Homo sapiens: one gene and its partner. The protein of the gene in region 1 interacts with the protein of each later gene in a pairwise test. Each region holds a gene or a part of one and is shown in the gene's direction. Other genes may lie near its edges.

Region 1 (3,644 bases):
TTGGGAGAGCCAGCCATTAGTTGTGTGTTGATGCATGCCTGATAACAAACCAAGAAGTGCCTTGAAAGGAAGGCACAGAAGGGTGGGGAAGATTTCACTGGGGACTCAGAGTTGGAGTTTGGGGGAGGGGCTTTTTAAAGCACCTGTAGTTTGAACAGAAGCCTGAAAGGTGGTGAGTGTTATTTAGGTGGGGTGTGGGGAGCTGAGCGCAGGGGAAGAGCAGTGTCATGGTCTAAGGTTTGCTCTGCTGCTGTGTGGGGTCACAGTGCAGGTAGGCTGGCTAGAGAGGGGCTGTGGCAGGGACTGGGCAGGAGATGGCAGGAGCAAGGGGGAGCAGTAGATGGACTCCAGGTGGTTTTATAGATGGAACCTGGTTGGGGTCTGGACATGGGTAAGGAACTGAGGTCAAGGTGCTTCCCATCTTGGCTGGTCGTGGTGGCTCACGCCTGTAATCCTAGCACTTTGGAAGGCCGAGGTGGGTGAATCACCTGAGGTAAGGAGTTCGAGACCAGCCCAGCCAACGTGACAAAACCCCGTCTCTGGTAAAAATACAAAAATTAGCCAGGCTTGGTGGCAGTTGCCTATAATCCCAGCTACTTGGAAGGCTGAGGCAGGAGAATCCCTTGAACCCGGGGGACGGAGGTTGCAGCGAGCTGAGATTGTACCACTGCACTCCGGCCTGCACAACAGAGTGAAACTCCATCTCAAAAAAAAAAAAAAAAACAAACATGCTTCCCAGCTTATGACCTTGGCGGCTGAGTGTGCAGAAAAGACCAATAGGAAGAGCATGACCAGGGGCTTTGGAGCTGGGGAACCTGGGGGCAAGAGCAATCTGACGTGTGTGTCAGACTAGCAGGGCTTGAGCTCATGGAAGGAAGGAATGAAAGGCCAACGCAGGCCGGGCGCGGTGGCTCACGCCTGTAATCCCAGCACTTTGGGAGGCCGAGGCGGGCGGATCACAAGATCAGGAGCTCGAGACCATCCTGGCTAACACAGTGAAACCCCGTCTCTACTGAAAATACAAAAAAATTAGCCAGGCGTGGTGGCGGGCGCCTATAGTCCCAGCTACTCGGGAGGCTGAGGCAGGAGAATGGCGTGGACCCGGGAGGTGGAGCTTGCAGTTAGCTGAGATTGCACCACTGTGCTCCAGCCTGGGCAACAGAGCGAGACTCCGTCTCAAAAAAAAAAAAAAAGGCCAATGCAACTGGTGGCACCACAGAGCCCTCCTCTTGTGGAGGTGAGGAGGCAAGATCCAAGGAGTCCTAGGGTATACGTTTGTAACATTATTTGCAAATGTCCCCAGCTCTCAGGGGACCCAAGAGCTAATCACAGCCCTGTAATAGCTCCTCTTTCTGCCCCCTCACTTGCCACCCCCTGCAGGGCCAGCAGCCAGAAATACTTGAGGGAGAGCTAGAGGGAAAAGGCAGGCCAGGTGGCTTTGTGCCCAGGAGTACCAGTCTTGTCCTTGATGTAGGTGGAATGCATCTTCTCAAGTGAGAACCCACACTTGGATCACATGGCAGCCCATTTTGAAACTCTGAACGCTTTTGCTCTCCTGGGACTGAGGCCATGGGAGCTATTTGGCCCTGAGGTGCCTGTCCTGTCCACAAGGCAGGGTCTGTCTGAGGAGGACCTTCTTTCCTCACCCTGTTCTAATGTCACATACTCCTGGTTTCTCCCACTAAGACAGGACATGGGGGTCCTCTGCCTGTCTGTGAATCGCCCCACCCTGTGCCTTGGGCCCTGGCTGGTCAGTAATGCCACTGTCTGTCTCAGCAGGAGTGGAGCACCAGCAACTGTTAGACCTCGCCCAGAAGCACCTCGGTGGCATCCCATGGACATATGCAGAGGACGCTGTGCCCACTCTTACTCCATGCCGCTTCACTGGCAGTGAGGTATGCTGCCTTTTGGGCAGGAGTAGTGCTCAGCTGGGGGCCTGTGGGAGGACCCCCATGTGCATGGTTATCCTGGTGACTCCAGAGATACCTCAGCAGTTGGGAAGGGGTTCTGTGGCTGCTGCATCACAGGCACACATGTTCACACACATACACCCTCTACCCACACCTGCCACCTTTTCTGTTCCCCTGGCAGTCTGGCTGTTCCTCAGCCTTGTCATGTACTGTTTCAGATCCGCCACCGTGATGATGCTCTACCTTTTGCCCACGTGGCCATTGCAGTAGAGGGTCCTGGCTGGGCCAGCCCGGACAATGTGGCCTTGCAAGTGGCCAATGCCATCATCGGCCACTATGACTGCACTTATGGTGGTGGCGTGGTGAGTGCCAGCGCGAGCATGGGACCTCGCCTTCAGGGAAGAGAGGGTGCTGGGGCTGTGTGCTCCTGTGCGTGGGGGTCACAGTGTGCGTTGAAGACAAGAGGGTGGGTGCTGACCACCTATCCCCCTGGCAGCACCTGTCCAGCCCACTGGCTTCAGGTGCTGTGGCCAACAAGCTATGCCAGAGTTTCCAGACCTTCAGCATCTGCTATGCAGAGACGGGCTTGCTGGGTGCACACTTTGTCTGTGACCGAATGAAAATCGATGACATGATGTTCGTCCTGCAAGGGCAGTGGTAAGTGGCAGCCTGGTATTCCTAGGTGGGATGGCGGCTTTAACCAGCACAGTGGGAGGCTGAGAGATGACACACTGGCTCAGAATGAATACCACCCACCCCCCCACTTTAGGATGCGCCTGTGTACCAGTGCCACGGAGAGTGAGGTGGCCCGGGGCAAAAACATCCTCAGAAATGCCCTGGTATCTCATCTAGATGGTGAGTCCTACAGCTCAGCGGGGAGGGGTAGAGTACATCTTGCCAGCGACAGCACCAAGGTGGCCACTGCTCCTAACTAACCAAGGTTAGAAAGGAAAACTTTGAAGACCACGCCATGCCCCATCACCCCACCCTTGGAGATGCAGGCAGGTGTGAGACAGGTCCACAGCCCATCACTGCCATAATAGGTGACCATAGAAGAGAGGGCTGTGATCTGAGTCAGCATGAGGTCAGGGAGGTCCTTGTCAACCTGAGGCTGGAGATTGTTTGTGTACCTGTGGGTCCAGGATTGGGCTGGGTGGACCTCTGAGCCTTCTCTCACCCTTAAAGGCACTACTCCTGTGTGTGAGGACATCGGACGCAGCCTCCTGACCTATGGCCGCCGCATCCCCCTGGCTGAATGGGAAAGCCGGATTGCGGTAACATGGACCCCTGGGAGAGGTTCTGGAGTCTTGGCCTGGCAGACACCTGGGAGGTGTAGGGTTGGGGCCTGGCATAGCGCAGCCTGCTCCTATAGGCATCCCTGGTGTCCTAGGCAGCTGTCACCTGCAGGGGTAGCATAGTGGGAGGGCAGGGCATAGGTGCTGATGGCTGTGGAGATGGGCGGGGCCCATGGAGGTCTATAGCAGGGATCCCTTCTGCCTTTCCTCTTTTGGGCTGGGGACAGCTGCATGCTGCCTGTGGGAGATCTCTGCTAGTTGGATGATGCTGACTGGCTGAGGTGGTGGCCAGGTGCCCGTTAGCCAGTATGCCCTCTGCCTCACCCTGCAGGAGGTGGATGCCAGTGTGGTACGTGAGATCTGCTCCAAGTACATCTATGACCAGTGCCCAGCAGTGGCTGGATATGGTAAGTGGCCTAGGGGGTCTGCTCTTTGTTTA
Region 2 (3,659 bases), on another chromosome or scaffold:
GGCCTTTCCCACCCTGTTGCTAAAGCAGGTGATGACAGAGGTGATTTGATCAGCCCAGACCCGTGCGGCACGTGGAGCCTTCGTCCGTGGGAGACCACACTGCCGAGGGGCAGGCCAGAGCCGAGGGGCCCCTGACGCTTCTCTGAGTGACCCTGAAGTCGGTGCTGCTTCAGCCCTGCTGCACTGGGCTTGCATACGTGGGGGAGCAGGGAGCCATACGTAGTTTCTGCTGAATGTGGGAGTCACCAGGACGTCAATGCCCACCTCTCACCTTCGCCACCCCTGCCTCCCTAAGTGTGTGCTCCAGGAGGTTGCACGGCCCCTGGAGAGGTTTTCGGTGGCGGGCTTGTTGCGTCTCTGGCTTCCAGAGACAGCAGGAATGAGAGCCAGGCCAGCTCAGTGGAGTCCATCCCGGTGGGTGCCACGGCTTTTGCAGGAATGGAAGCCCCGCCCCCAGGAGGGCCACTGCTGGCGAGGCTTGAGCTCTTTCTGTGACCCGATCCCCCTGGTCACACGCTTTGCTAAGGCGGGTAGCCTAGAGCTGGAAGCCCCTCCTGCCACCCAGCCACTGTGCCTCTCCCAGCTGATGGACGAGGAAGCCTCCATTACTTGATTTTTGTTTTTATTTATTTTTGAGACAGGGTCTCATTCTGTCACCCAGGCTGGAGTACCGTGGCACGATCATAGCTTATTGCAGCCTCGGCCTCCCAGTCTCAAGCGATCCTCCTGCCTCTGCCTCCAGAGAAGTAGGGACCACAGATGCGTGCTACCACGCCCAGCTAATTTTTGTATTTGTATTTTTTGGTAGAGATGGGGGTGTCACTATGTTGTCCAGGCTGGTCTCTAACTCTTGGGCTCAAGTGTTCCTCCCGCCTCGGCCTCCCAAAGTGCTGGATTACAGGCGTGAGCCACCACACCTGGCTGCATCCGTCATGTTAAGAAGACCCCGGCTGGCAAGCTCACTCGGGGACTGCAGGGAACCCTGCCCTTTGGGGGCAGTAGTGAGGGGTGCCCAGGAGGATGGGGTGGTCAGCAGGCAGTGATGCTGCTGTGTCCTGTCTCAGACCCCCCAGTTCCCTTCAGGATGATGGAGGATGCGGAGGCCCCGGGAGAGCAGCTCTACCAGCAAAGCCGGGCCTACGTGGCTGCCAACCAGCGGCTGCAGCAGGCGGGCAACGTGCTGAGGCAGAGGTGTGAGCTCCTGCAGCGAGCCGGCGAGGACCTGGAGCGGGAGGTGGCCCAGATGAAGCAGGCAGCATTACCGGCAGCCGAGGCTGCCTCCTCAGGCTGACCTCTCGGGGCCTGCAGGCTTGGGCAGCGCACAAGGTGGCCTGCACCCAGGCTTTCCCTGGGGGTCCGTCGGCCCCAGACTGGCATTCACGGGGTCCCAGCCCACGTGGGTGTTGACACAGGCGCCCCTCCTGATGCTGGGGCTGCGGTTCATCCGTCGTCTCATTCATGCCGAGTTGGTGGGACCCACCCAGCTGGCTCCGTCCTGCGTGACCTGAGGGCCCCACTGGGGTTCTGGAAGAGGATAGGGACATTATTGCTGTACTGTGATTCTGTCGTCAGCTCACAGTGGCCGTGCTCTGCAGTGGGGCCCCTGGGAGCAGGTGCCACCTCCTTCCTCTCCCGGGGCAGGCACTCGCCTGTCCACTTCTGAGTCCAGGTGTTGGGATCGAGGTGTTAACTGTGATTCCATCCAGCGAGTGCCCACCCAATGTCAGAGCAGCCCGAGGGCCAGCCTGAGCCCCTGACCCCACTTCCTTCTGGGCCCCGGGCTCCTCCCACAAGCCACGTTGATCTTCACAACGACCCTGGGCCGCTGGGGTCACCCAAGAGAAGCAGCCCTGAGACCCAGCCAGGCTGGGCCTAGCTCCACGGCACGGGTGTCTCCCAGCCACTGCCCTTGCTGGAGGACCGCTGTGAGTCACTGGCCAGGAGCCCAGGGTGTCCTGAGTCTCATAGCCACCCTGCCAGCTGCAGCAGGTCCTGGGCCTGCTTCCCTGCGGGTTCTGGCCCTGGGGGAGGGGGCGTTAGTGCGGCGGAGGGTCTTGCCAAAGGCTTTTCATCCTAAATAGCAACTTGAGTGGAAACCTGGGCAAGGCGGCCCAGAGGCTGGGCCCTGCACATAAAGCTTTCGTGTGTGTCTGGCCGTCTGAATGGTGCCTCTGTGAGCGGCTCCGTCCCGGGGCCCCGGAAGCTGGGGAGGGATGGGTACCGGCGACCCCGGGAACCCTGCTCAGTCCTGCCGGGCACTGCATGCAGGGACCGTCCGCCTGACCCAGAGACCTGGGGCTGCCTCACCCTCTCTCCAGACCCACAGCCAGCTTTGTTTCTTGAATGTGGAAGATGTTTCTTATTCCCTGAAGAAAGGGGGCCTGCCACACACAGCCTGGGAGGCGCCTCATCCAGAAACTGGGACTTGGCTAGCCCGGCCTGGGCCCTAGGGACTTCTCACTGGTCATGCTTCTGAAGCTGCTCACCTGGCCGAGGGAGGTCCCGGCAGTGTCCCAGGGTGGAAGGTGGGGAGGGGGCCGGCTCCTGCCATCCCTTCCCACCCTGCACTTCTGTGCTGCTTGCAGTCATAGCTTTCCTTGTCCCCCCAGCTGGGCCAGGGCTGTGCTCCCTGAAGTGGCTTTGACGTGGGGCCGTCCCAGCTCCCGCAGCCCCTGTCCACCATTGACTCTCCCCGGTAGTGGCTGCTGTGGCTGCCCCATCCCAGCTGTTGCACCAGCCACAGCTCCTAGTGGCTCATGGGTGCCTCCTGCCCCACACTGGGGCCTGCCATAATAACTGGCCCAGGTACCAATGCCCAGGTTGGACCCCCTGTCTGGGGTGCTGTGCACCCCCTGGAGCCTGCCCTCCCTTGGGACCAGGGGGAGACTCCTGGCCTCAGCCAGTGCCTCCCCGGCCCATCTGGGTGGGGTGCCCACAAACCCTGTGCCCCCAGTTTCTGCTTTCTGGCTCTGCTTCCAGGGATCTAACCTGGGGGGTCTCAGCAATTCTGTGGCAGCACATAGACAGCGATGAACCTACCCGCCCACAGCCCATTTTGAGGAAGAGGTGATGGCGGCAGGCAATGCAAGAGCTCAGTTTATTAAATGTGTGCGAGTCGGACAGCTGACGGTGTCGTCCTTACGCCGGACAGATGGCTTTACATTTAGGGAAGGACAGGCTTTCACTATTTACCACTATTTACACGTCCGTTTAACACTGCAGAGACCCGGTACAGAAACGTGGGGTGGCGGCTAGGGGAATCAGACAGACCAGGCGCGCGCCATCAGGGCTGGACCGGGGCAACAGATGGGGCCGGGTGAGGTAATGCTGTCGGAGCTCGGGAGGACCATGCCGGTGGGCACGGCGCCCCGAGTTCAGCACCCACGTGTGGTCATGTTGGGGGCCAGTGGCGGTCACTGTCCATCAGCCTCAGGACACCTCCACCCTCCCTGCGTCCTCAGACCCTCAGCTCCTTAGGACTGGCCCTGGAGCATTGGGGGGCAGACGAGGACCCCTTGTCACCCTGGTGCAGAGAGGCCAGGTGGCCAGGCAGGGGCCGCGGTGGGAGGGAGGCCTTGCAGTGGGCGTACCTTGAGTTGATTGTCCAGAGACCGCGGACTGCCTGTCCCCTTCTGGAGACAGCTGGACTGGGCGGTGAG

Evidence for each region. Proteins that work in one complex are often made in the same cells at the same time.
Region 2: the proteins of UQCRC1 (region 1) and C19orf25 interact in binary tests that used the Homo sapiens proteins (3 or more experiments, as listed by UniProt).

The regions. Positions count from the first base shown.
Region 1 is NC_000003.12:48,599,603-48,603,246, reverse strand, and holds part of UQCRC1 (cytochrome b-c1 complex subunit 1, mitochondrial precursor), read left to right. Parts: intron 1-1,779; coding exon 1,780-1,895; intron 1,896-2,128; coding exon 2,129-2,272; intron 2,273-2,406; coding exon 2,407-2,567; intron 2,568-2,679; coding exon 2,680-2,765; intron 2,766-3,095; coding exon 3,096-3,184; intron 3,185-3,536; coding exon 3,537-3,612; intron 3,613-3,644. UniProt on the Homo sapiens protein: Component of the ubiquinol-cytochrome c oxidoreductase, a multisubunit transmembrane complex that is part of the mitochondrial electron transport chain which drives oxidative phosphorylation.
Region 2 is NC_000019.10:1,472,664-1,476,322, reverse strand, and holds the end of C19orf25 (UPF0449 protein C19orf25), read left to right. Parts: intron 1-1,064; coding exon 1,065-1,291; 3' UTR 1,292-3,122; downstream 3,123-3,659.